Homo sapiens: one gene and its partners. The protein of the gene in region 1 purifies or fractionates together with the protein of each later gene. This does not show direct contact. Each region holds a gene or a part of one and is shown on either strand. Other genes may lie near its edges. The genes, in order: FAH, KANSL3 and PGM1.

Region 1 (3,649 bases):
CAAATGGCGCCACCTGGACCCCAACTCATAGAATGCAGCTTGGAGCCCAGCAACAGGGAGTCCCTGCAGCCTCTGGTTCCCGGCACCGCTTGGTCTACCACTGGGTCTAGGCCTTGACCCCTGGTTCCAGTCCTCCCTTCTCAGCCTGTTGCAATCTGCCCCACTCCATCACTGGCAACACCTGGCCAGAGTCACCTGTGACCCGATAGTCAGTGTCATGACCTTGTGTCCCCTTCAGCATGGACTTCCTGTGGCCCCTCACTCTTGTTGGCATTCCCTCACCCCTTGGTTTCTGGCATGTGACCTGTCCTCGTTCTCCAGTGTCTCTGAGTCCTCACGATGCCCCTCTCCAATTCTGACCTCCCTGTGGGGATCCAGGCTGAGCTCCCAGCCATTTGCACATCCTCGCTTGAGCATCTCACCACGCATTTGCTGGGGGCCTCTACCAACACCCGGTGCTGGTCCTGCACCCACACTGCTCTCCCATGCTCCTCTGCCTCTGGGGTCATCTCATGTTTGCTGTGCTACAAACAACCCTGAGGTCTTTCCTTGCAAGCCAGTTCTAGTGAAGTCCTGTGGGGCTTTCACCCTCATCCCTTGCTCTCTCCTCGCTGCTCCCTACCACAGCACCCCCTGCCCACCCTGGTCATTTTCAGTCGCCAGGACTTGACTTTCTCTCTAGCTGGCAGCGGCCTTGTCTAGTCTCCCTAGGGCTGCAAGGCCACAGCCTCTCTTTGCTTGTCCTCCAGTCATCTGCCTTCTTCCGGGTCGGTCATCACAGGGTTTTGCCTGCCTTCCTCTGTGCCAGCCCTTCCCCAACACCATTTAGGTACAACACTACTATTCCCCCTCTGAACTATTATTTACTTAATGTTTTCCTTCAGAGTGGCTCCCAGTTTAAACTTAATATATTAAGAAGGGAACTTTATATTCCTACTGGCATCACTAGCTACACTGTTTCATAACCATTAGTATCACCAAAAACGATCTCATGTCCCGTGGGTGACTCATGTACCATGCTTTGGAAAACACTGCTTTTGGCCGGAGTGCAGGCGTTCTGGCCCAGCCATCCAAGCTGCCTCCCTAGCTGGCTCCAGCACCAGCCAGGGCTGTCTACTTCTGTTGTGACCCCTCTGCCTTCCAGGGGCCCTGCAATGCGCTTTCAGGCCCAGCCTTTCCTCACAGGCCAGGCTTTGTTCTCCATCTCGGCCTGTCTGCTGCCCACCTTCCCTTTCTCTCCCCTCCTGTGGCTTTCAGGAACATCTCTGGTTTGGCTCCTGTGACCTTTGACCTGCTGATGCCCCTTCCTTGGCTGCATTTCCTAGAGACCCACAGTATGATCCCCCCTACTGCTATCCAGGGACACAGTGCTGGGTCCCTGGAGAGGGAATGCTCCTGCTGTCTCAGACCCTCTGCCTAGGGGAGCAGGTGCTGCTGGGGGCCTGGCTGGTATGGGGGCCCAGCCGGGTGAGCTCAGCCCACCTGCCAGTGACCTCTGTGCTGTGCTTTGCCCTCTCAGGACCCCAGGCCCCTGCCGTATCTGTGCCATGACGAGCCCTACACATTTGACATCAACCTCTCTGTTAACCTGAAAGGTATGTTGTAGGGGGACTGACATGGCCAGGAGCTCTGAGGCAATGTGTGCCTGTGTGCCTTGTCCTGAAGGCTCCTGAGCTTTGGCAAGGGTGAGGGCACGTGCTACAGCCCTGGAGATGTGTGTGGCTCGTCTAAAGGAAAGAGGAGGGGAGGGGAGGGGACACCCTGGTGCTCACTGGGAACCTAACTGGGCCCATAGGGCATTAACCCTGTCACTGAGCTCTCAGTGGTAGGGCTGAAAGGATGGAGTCCGGGACTTCCATCTTCTGCTTGAATCCCCTCCCCAGCCTCTCCAGGGGCTGCCTGGCTCCTGCTCACATATCGCCACTGACCCTCACTTCCGTGGTGGGTGGCACATTTCATTGAGTGCCTGTTTGAAAGCATGTCCTTGTGGGTCTGTTCGCTTGGCTGAGCCCCTGGGGCCACACAGAGCCAGCGCATCAAGACCCCAGATTCCCACCATGGGCCAGCCCTGAGTGTCTTGCAGACAGACCCGAGATCCCCACCCTGGGCCAGCCCTGACATAGACAGGGCCCACATCTCCCTGTGGCTGCTCAGCCCGCCTCCGCGAACAGGCCCAATGGGGCGTTGGTAATAAAGAGACTGGCTCTGCAGGCCATGACTCTGCTGCTCAGCTGTGGGACTTTGGGCAAGTTGCCAAACCTGGCCATGTCCTCATTTGTCATCTATGAAATGGGATAATAGCGGCGTTGACCTCATGGTGTGTTGTGAGGACCAAACATGTCAATTCATGCAAAGGTCTGGGACAGGGTCTGTACCTAGAAAGAGTCAGGTGTCATTTTCCAATCCCAACGGGGGCCCTCGGATGGGGAGGGTTTGCCTGGTGGCCACACACAGACCTCCTAGCCACACTCTGGCCAAATCTCCTTTTTAGCTCCATTCCATTCCTTTTTCTTTTCTTTTCTTCTTTTTTTTTCCCCCGAGATGGAGTTTCACTCTTCTTGCCCAGGCTGGAGTGCAATGGTGCGATCTTGGCTCACCACAACCTCTGCCCCTGGGTTCAAGCGAGTCTTCTGCCTCAGCCTCCTGTGTAGCTGGGATTACAGGCATGCGCCACCATGCCTGGCTAATTTTGTATTTTTAGTAGAGATGGGGTTTCTTCATGTTGGTCAGGATGGTCTTGAACTCCTAACCTTAGGTGGTCTACCCACCTAGGCCTTCCAAAGTGCTGGGATTACAGGCGTGAGCCACCATGCCCGGCCAGCTCCATTTCTTTCTTCTGTCTGCTCTGTCTGTACACTCCAGGCTTTGCCATGTCTGTCTCACTGTCAGTTCCAGGGTCTCGGCCCTTCATGAGGTGGTTCCTGTCAGGAGGCGCAGTACACTGCAGGAGCTGTCGCCATGGGAGCAGGATGCTCCATGGAGAAAGAGCTGTCACAGAGAGCCTCCTGGCTGCCCAGGGCCCTCTGGGAAGCTGTGCTGGGCCCGCTCTTTCAGGTTCCAGGTCAGGAAGCTGAGGCTCAGAGAGGAAAAGGATTCACCCCGAGCCACCTACCTGGCTAATGGCAGGGCTGGGACTCAATCCAAGTGTGTCACAAGTTCTAGGTTGGCCTCCTGCCACCCACAATGCGTGCTTGGAGTATACTTTCTATCTGGTTTTGTCCTCAGTATTCCTGGCTGCCTAGAGGTGAACCTGCCCGCCCGGGGGAGGCCACTGGTAGAAAAGGGACAAGATTATCCAGAAAGCACAGTGTCCAGAGATGTAGTCCTGCATTTGCAGTTCTGATGTTCTGAGTTGGGATCTGGGCGAAAGGGTCTGGGGAGGAGCAGCCTTGGCAGACCCAGACCTCGCATGGCTGAAGAGCACACCTGTTCTGTGCCACCTCAGAGGGGAAGTTAGGACCAAGGGAGGAAGCCAGGTTTTGAGGGAGCAGAGGAGCTTTCTACTTATTAGTGCTGTTCAGAAGTGGAACGGCAACAGCCCGGTACCTTGCATGTAGTAGATGTTTAGTAAATATTGTTTAGTACGTTGTGAAGTAGCACACTGCCCATCACTGGAGGAGCTCGGCAGGGGACAGATGACCCAGCTATC
Region 2 (3,649 bases), on another chromosome or scaffold:
CGAGCTGGGTTTGAAATGGGGATCTAGGGTGTCATGGGGGAGAGTAGCAGCTTTAGAACCCTGGCTTAGCAGAGCTGATGGGCAAACGGGGAATACTAATAGCGAACATATATGGAGTCCTTGCTGTGTGCCATGCCTTCTTCATGGCACTCGCATTGCTGTAGTTTGTTGAGTTTTGGCATGGCCCCATGAGGCAGATAGTACTATTCAGTTTTAGATGCTTCTACAGACTGACTCCGTGGCAGAGTCAGGTTGCCATGCAGTAATTTCAGAAGGAGCCCCTATTGGCCATTTTCTACAACCTTTTTTCTTATTCCCTCTCTTTTTCTCCCTTCTCTGGCTGGCTGTGATTCTGTAATTCTTTCTGATTCATTCCAGCACAGTTTGCTGCTTTTCTGAAACAAAATATGCTGGTGAGGAAAGCTCTTCCTCCTGGCACCTCCTCCTGTCTCTTTGGTGAGTATTACTCTTTCTTGCCTGCTCGTCCACTACATTCTGCTCCTCAACCCCTTATTTATTTTCCATCTCTGCCTCTCATCTGCCTCAGTTTGGTTTCCTCCTGTTCTTTTCTCTCTCTTTCTTTGTATTCTTTTGTTTTGCTGACCCCTTTTGCTTACTCTGTAGTCTTTGCCCTTTTTCCATTCTTTTGTTTGCTTCTCATGGTGTTTTCTTTTTTGTCTCTTAGTGTGGTTCTTTCTTTCACTACGGTCTTGGCTCTGCTGCTTTTTTGTATGTCTGTGGCATTGCCTGAGTCTCAGTTTCCTTGTGTGTTTTTCTCCCTGCCTCCTGTCCTGTGTTTATCTGGTGGCTACAAGCCTACCAGCCACATATCAGCATAGAACCTGAAACTCCTTTCCCCTACACCCTCCTTCCTACTCTGATTTTAGCCAGTGCATTTGTCCCCTAAGCAATCCTTCTAGCTGGTTATGTCCTGACTGTTGCCTCATGCCAGGACCCCTCCTCCCTCCTCATGTGACTGCTACCTTCCTCCCCACACCAGTCTTTGCTTCCCTGTGCTACAAGAGGACTAGGGTGGACTTCTGGGTTTAAAGAGGAGGGAATCTTTGAGGAAGCTTGAAAGATAACCTAAGAGTCCAAAAAGCTTGGCTGTATACATGATGAGCCTGTTTGATTCAGTGGAAGTGGAAGCCCATGTGTGAACAGATGGCCTTTGTCTGTACTAGTACACATGACCTGGGGACTAGGTTGTGACATGGGCCAGTGTTGCCCTGTTACTTTTGGGTGGGAGCCGTGAGGTTGCCTGGTTGAGGTACTCTCTCTCCTAGTAGCTACTCATAGCCAGCTTTTAGTCCTGGTGACACTCCTCTTCATTGCCTCCATTTGGCAAGTGGATCCTCAACTGTGGGCTCTTAGGGCAGGGTGGGACTCTTGAGAGCCTTTGGAAAACTCTACTTTTTAGAGAGGACTGGATGACCTGCTCCTCCATGAGTTCTCATAGAATGTTTGATGTCTCCAACTGTGTGATGATGTGGGGAGGGCTTCAGACAGGAAGATGATCACATTTTTTGAGTCTGAGAAGGACTGTTTACTCATTCTGTTGAATCCTCTATTTTTGTTGTTGTTGCCATTGGCCTTGGCTAGGCAGGGTCAGGATGTCTTCTGTCTTTTAATTCCTACCAACTCAGGGCCCCTTCTCTTCCGATTCCAGTGCAGGATGAGGGATGAGAAGGGTGCCATCCTCTAAGAAGGGCAAAGTGGGGTCCCCCACGGACAGGGCCTGAGTGAAGTGGTCCTGAAGCATGGGCAGTCTCCTTTGAGGGGTGGCCCTGTACGTAGAGTGGTTATCCTGTGTGTTCTACATTCTACACATGGCTGTGTTGGTGCTGGTATTGACTGAGTGTCTGTTGGGATTTTTTGGATTGTGGAGGATCTCAACTCAGCTCCATGTCTTAGTTCCCATTTCATCAGAACCACCAGAGGAAGGAGAGAAAGAGGATCTTAGGGTTCAGCTGAAGCGACACCATCCCTCGAGTCCCCTTCCTGGCAGTAAGACCTCCAAACGACCGAAGATCAAGGTGTCCCTTATCTCCCAAGGGGACACAGCTGGAGGGCCTTGTGCTCCTTCCCAAGGAAGTGCTCCAGAAGGTGAGTTTCTCTTGGTACGTTAAATGAGAACTGAGCTCTCTCAGGTACACAGCATTGCCCTTTGGTGGCCATTCACCAGCATGTCAGCCTTTGCTTTATTTTGAGAGATGCCCGGAGCAAAGAAGACATGAGTCTGTACATGTGGGTAAAGTTGGCATGAGTCCATCTGAATGAGGACCAGGCAGGCAGAATATGAGAGGAAGCTGTGCCATCGTTCAAAGCATCCTATATTTTGTTCTTTTTTTGTTGGCTTCAATTAAAGGTACAGAATATTTCAGGAAGTTTAGAAAATAGAAGGAAAAAATAACCCCAACTCTCCCTACTCTAGCATAGTTCATCTTTTTTCATTTTCCAGTTTTCGTCCGTAATATCTTGCATTTAGCCTAAGCTGTGGAACCTGGAAACATAGAGGCCAAATAGGACTGACCAGGGGCCTTGGGGTTTTCTGTTTTGAAGCTGCAGGTGGGAAGCCCATCACCATGACACTGGGGCAGGCTTCAGCAGGGGCCAAGGAGCTCACAGGACTTCTCACCACAGCCAAGTGAGTGTTTATTGGACCATCTGTGTCTATTCCTTTTTTCCCTTCCCTCTGTTTCTGGTTTATTTAGTGCTTTGGAAAATGATGGATTCTGGATTCTTGTCAGTTTTGGAAATGTGACTTACTTCTGATTGGGATCTTTGTCTTGCTTTTGAGTCAACCCAGAGTTCACTTTTACTTAAGACTCCAAATCGTCCCCTGGCTTTTGCTATAAGTCCTGTAAGTAAGGACTTTTAGAAGACTAGAGGCCAGGTACAGAAAGTGGGACAAAGAAGCTGAAGGTTTTTGGTGTATGTCTGCTGCTGAAAGCCTTGCTGGGCCCCACTCTGTACCCTGCCAGTGTTGCTAGGGCTTGCTGTCCTGTGACCTTTGGATAACAGAGCTCCTTCCTTTGTCTCCAGGTCCAGTTCTTCTGAAGGTGGAGTCTCAGCCAGCCCAGTCCCTTCAGTGGTCTCCAGCAGCACTGCACCCAGTGCCTTGCACACACTGCAGAGCCGCCTGGTGGCCACATCTCCTGGCAGCTCCCTCCCAGGTATCTTGTGGCCCAGCATTCTCCCCTTCCAACACAGAATTTTTGGTCTGCTGCTTCTGGGTGGTCCTGGGAAAGCATCCCTGGAGCTAAATCCATAGGATGGGCCTCTGGGTCTTAGAGTGATCATAGAGGCTTGACGTGAAGCTGGAATTAGCTTGGGCAGAGGGATTCCTTGGCCTTGAATAAATGCAGTGAGTAAATGTCCTGGTCTGCAAGTGAGTAAATGTTCCAGTCTACAGGTGCTGTATCCTCTACTGTAAGGAGAAATAGCCGATAGGACATATATGTATAGTCAGCCTTTCTTATCCACAGGAGATTGGTTCTAGGACCCTCACCACTACCAAAATCCATGGATGCTCAAGTCCCTTATATGAAATTATGTCATACCGTTGGAATTCTATATCCACAGGTTTCTATCCGTGGTTGTTTGAATCTGCAAATCTGCTGTGAAGCTCACAGATAATTGAGAGCTG
Region 3 (3,649 bases), on another chromosome or scaffold:
AAAAGAAAAAATCAAATTCCTTGCTTAGGGCAGGAAAAGCCACAAGGAACACTGCCTTCTATGCTTTCAGTCTAGCCAAAAGAGAAAAAAGAAAAAAAAATTAAGGAGAAAAAGAAGGAAGAAAAAAACCCAGTGGGGCACAGACAAATAATTCCAAGCTGTATATGCTGTCATGAATTCCCAATATATTAGGGAAGCTGCCAGAATCTTGCTTCTCAGGATGAACTGTTGCCAAAACATATCATTTGCAAAAGCCGTAAGAGCCAGAGAGCTTTTTGCTCCTTAAAATAGCAGTAAGGGCAAATAAAAGTCTAAAGATAGTAAAATTAGGTAAACATTTTTAAAATATGTTATATAAAGCACTAAAAATATTGCCTACTCTCTAGTTTTGCCTGCATCCGGGTTTTGAGGACTGTTAACTTCTAAAAGTAGTATCCTATTGAAGAGAAAAGTCTTTTGAAAGAAAAAGTCATGTTTTTTTAAGAACCAAAAATAGAAAGAGAAAGTGTTGGAGTAAATTGATTGGTTGATTCATTCACACAGTCTTTCATAATTAGTTATTTACCGTATTCCTTGTGCTATGCTAGTCACCAGACTTAATTACAAGGATAAATAAGAGATGCCCGTAAGAAGCACACAGTTAGTGGGGAGAAAGGCTCACAAACAGATGGTTGAGACTCGAGGAGGCTGATGCCACCCCAGATGTTTTGTGCAGGTTGCTACAGGAGAAGAAAGAGAAGGGAGTTCATGACTGCCTAGGGAAGTTGGGAGCTAGTCTTAAAAAAGAGAGGACATTTGAGCTGGGTCTGAAAAGATGAAGAGAGGAAGGAAAAACACCACGTGCCTCCTGCATACCCAGCATGGTGCTAGATACTCTAACAATTCCAAGAAGAATAAGACCAGCGGGAAGTGCAGTAGGGCAGGCACATAAAGAATTCAACATAGGATAATGTGAGAGCATGATTATAGAGCAATTGTGTACAGTTCTATTCAGAAATCAGAAAATAAGGCTCCATGTAGACTGCTTTCTTTCAGAATAAAGAGTTTAAAGGCAAAAAAATGAGAGTTGTGTTCCATATCAGGCTCTTGGAAAAGGGTGTCCATGCATATAAGCACATCCTCCCGAGAAGCCCATTTTAAAATTTTGTTAAAGATTTTAGCAAGGACCTTAGCAGGAGACAGATGTCTCCTTTAAGAGACATCATTAAGGTTTGTTTAACCAAACCTTAATGGTTAAAGAACAGTGTCTTGGAGTTGCTGGATCCATGAGTAGGTCCAATTTGAAGGCTTTGATCCTTTTTTGCCAAATTGATGTCCAGAAGGATTGTGCCAGCGTCCACTCCCACCAGCTCTTTGGTGGAATCCCGTTTCCCTTTTATTCTCCTGGCACTGGCTGTTCGGATTTTTACACTTGTGGATTTTTACACCTTTTGTCAAGCAAGTAGCAGTTTCTCATTGTGGTTTTAACTTTAATTTTTCTTCTTAAAAATAACACCAGCTTTTTATTATACTAATTGGTTGGGTGTATGTGTCTATGTGTATTGTTTGGCAAATCGCCTATTGATATCCTTGGCCTGTTTTTCTATTGAAATTCTTTTTTCTTATTCATACATAAGAATTTTTTCTATATTGAATGTATTAAACATCTGCCTTAAAATATATCAAATGTGGCCGGGCATGGTGGCTCACGCCTGTAATCCTAGCACTTTGGGAGGCCGAGGCGGATGGATCACCTGAGGTCAGGAGTTCGAGACCAGCCTGGCCAACATGGCGAAACCCTGTCTCTACTAAAACTACAAAAATTAGCTGAGCATGGTGGCGGGCACCTATAATCCCAGCTACTCGGGAGGCTGAGACAGGAGAATCGCTTGAGCCTGGGGGGCAGAGGTTGCAGTGAGCCAAGATCATGCCACTTTACTCCAGCCTGGGCGAAAGAGCGAAACTCCGTCTCAAAAAATAAAATTTTACATATATATATATATATATATATATATATATATATATATATATATATATAGTATTAAACATCTACCTTAAGTGCTATCCACTTTTAAACAACCAGATCTCTTTAATTTTTTAAAGTTTGTCAATGGGCTTTTAATTTTGTCCATAGTAGTTTTACACTATAGAAATGCTGATTTTTAAGTAGATAAATACATCAGTGTTTTCTTTTATGAATACCGAATTTACATTATTTATCACCCCTAAGATTTATATATATAAATATATAAAAAGACATGTATATTAATATAATATATACTAGTATTTAAAAGCTTTCAGGTTTTACATTCGAATTTTTAGTTCAACTGGAATTATTTTTGTTATGGTGTTTTATAGGGAAGAAAACAATTTTTTAAAGCTATTTATCCAGTTATCCAAACGCCATTTAAAAAGTAATCTACTCTTTTCCCACAGCCTTGCAGTGAGACCTTTGTCATACTCAAGCCTCTTGTGTGCTTGGATCTCTTTCCAGATGCACTCTTGTTCTATTAAGCTACCAGACTATTTGAATTATTGAAATTTTGTAATGGTCATGTTCTTCTGCTGTTTGTTCATTTAAGATCTATTGTGTTTTCTCTTCACATTAATACTTTATAACTGATATATCAAATTCCACCTAATTATCTCACTGACATTTTTATTGACTTATGCCTTACATTTCTAAATCACTTTGGGAAGCATCAATTTCTTTTCAGTATCATGTTGCCTACTTAATATGTGATTCCTCCTGTATACCCAAGTCCTCAGTCAGGCAGTGTGACTCTTTTATTTGGGTCTGCACACCTACTGTTGAGTACTGTATTAGTCTGTTCTCACACTGCTATAAAGAACTACCTGAGACTGGGTAATTTATGAAGAAAAGAGGTTTAATTGACTCACAGTTCTGCAGGCTGTACAGGAACCATGGCTGGGAGGCCTCAGGAAATGTACAATCATGGCAGAACAATGAAGAGGCAGCCGGCACCTTCTTCACATGGCTGCAGGAGAGAGAGAGTGAAGGGGGAAGTGCTATATACTTTTAAACAACCAGATCTCATGAGAACTCACTTACTATCACCAGAACAGCAAGGGGGAACTTTGTCCCCCATGATCCAATCACTTCCCATCACGTCCCTCCCTCAACATGAGATTTGGGTGGGGATGCAGAGCCAAACCATATCAAGTACCTTCTCAGGTACTGGGAGAAAGCACGTTTCTTACAGCAGCTTGCTGTCCCCCCTCCAGGTTCTGACCACATCCGTGAGAAAGATGGACTGTGGGCTGTCCTTGCCTGGCTCTCCATCCTAGCCACCCGCAAGCAGAGTGTGGAGGACATTCTCAAAGATCATTGGCAAAAGTATGGCCGGAATTTCTTCACCAGGTGAGCCACAGCCCAGCTGGGGTACAAGGTAAGGTGGGGAAGTGGGCAGAGAGAATTCTTGCGCATCCACAGCCTCTCCTGTCTTAAGTGCTAATAAAACCCTAGGTCATCCAGCCTCTCTCAATTGGAGACTTTAAAAATAATCTGGTCAGGGATGAAATGAAGTCAATTTTTATGTCAGCCATAAAGAGTGAGGCTTTAAAAGTTTAGCTAACATAATCAAAAGAATAAATGCTTTATAAGCATTTTAAATGTGTCCATTGGGTGGACATGATCATAACATTGGAT

What was found.
Region 2: the proteins of FAH (region 1) and KANSL3 purify together in Homo sapiens (co-immunoprecipitation; one large-scale study listed by IntAct). This does not show direct contact.
Region 3: the proteins of FAH (region 1) and PGM1 fractionate together in Homo sapiens (co-fractionation; one large-scale study listed by BioGRID). This does not show direct contact.

The regions. Positions count from the first base shown.
Region 1 is NC_000015.10:80,173,497-80,177,145, forward strand, and holds part of FAH (fumarylacetoacetase), read left to right. Parts: intron 1-1,519; coding exon 1,520-1,595; intron 1,596-3,649.
Region 2 is NC_000002.12:96,603,777-96,607,425, reverse strand, and holds part of KANSL3 (KAT8 regulatory NSL complex subunit 3), read left to right. Parts: intron 1-378; coding exon of another isoform or gene 379-456; intron 457-1,888; coding exon of another isoform or gene 1,889-1,914; coding exon 1,915-2,106; intron 2,107-2,562; coding exon 2,563-2,647; intron 2,648-3,045; coding exon 3,046-3,176; intron 3,177-3,649. UniProt on the Homo sapiens protein: Non-catalytic component of the NSL histone acetyltransferase complex, a multiprotein complex that mediates histone H4 acetylation at 'Lys-5'- and 'Lys-8' (H4K5ac and H4K8ac) at transcription start sites and promotes transcription initiation.
Region 3 is NC_000001.11:63,645,292-63,648,940, forward strand, and holds part of PGM1 (phosphoglucomutase-1), read left to right. Parts: intron 1-3,225; coding exon 3,226-3,361; intron 3,362-3,649. UniProt on the Homo sapiens protein: Catalyzes the reversible isomerization of alpha-D-glucose 1-phosphate to alpha-D-glucose 6-phosphate. The mechanism proceeds via the intermediate compound alpha-D-glucose 1,6-bisphosphate.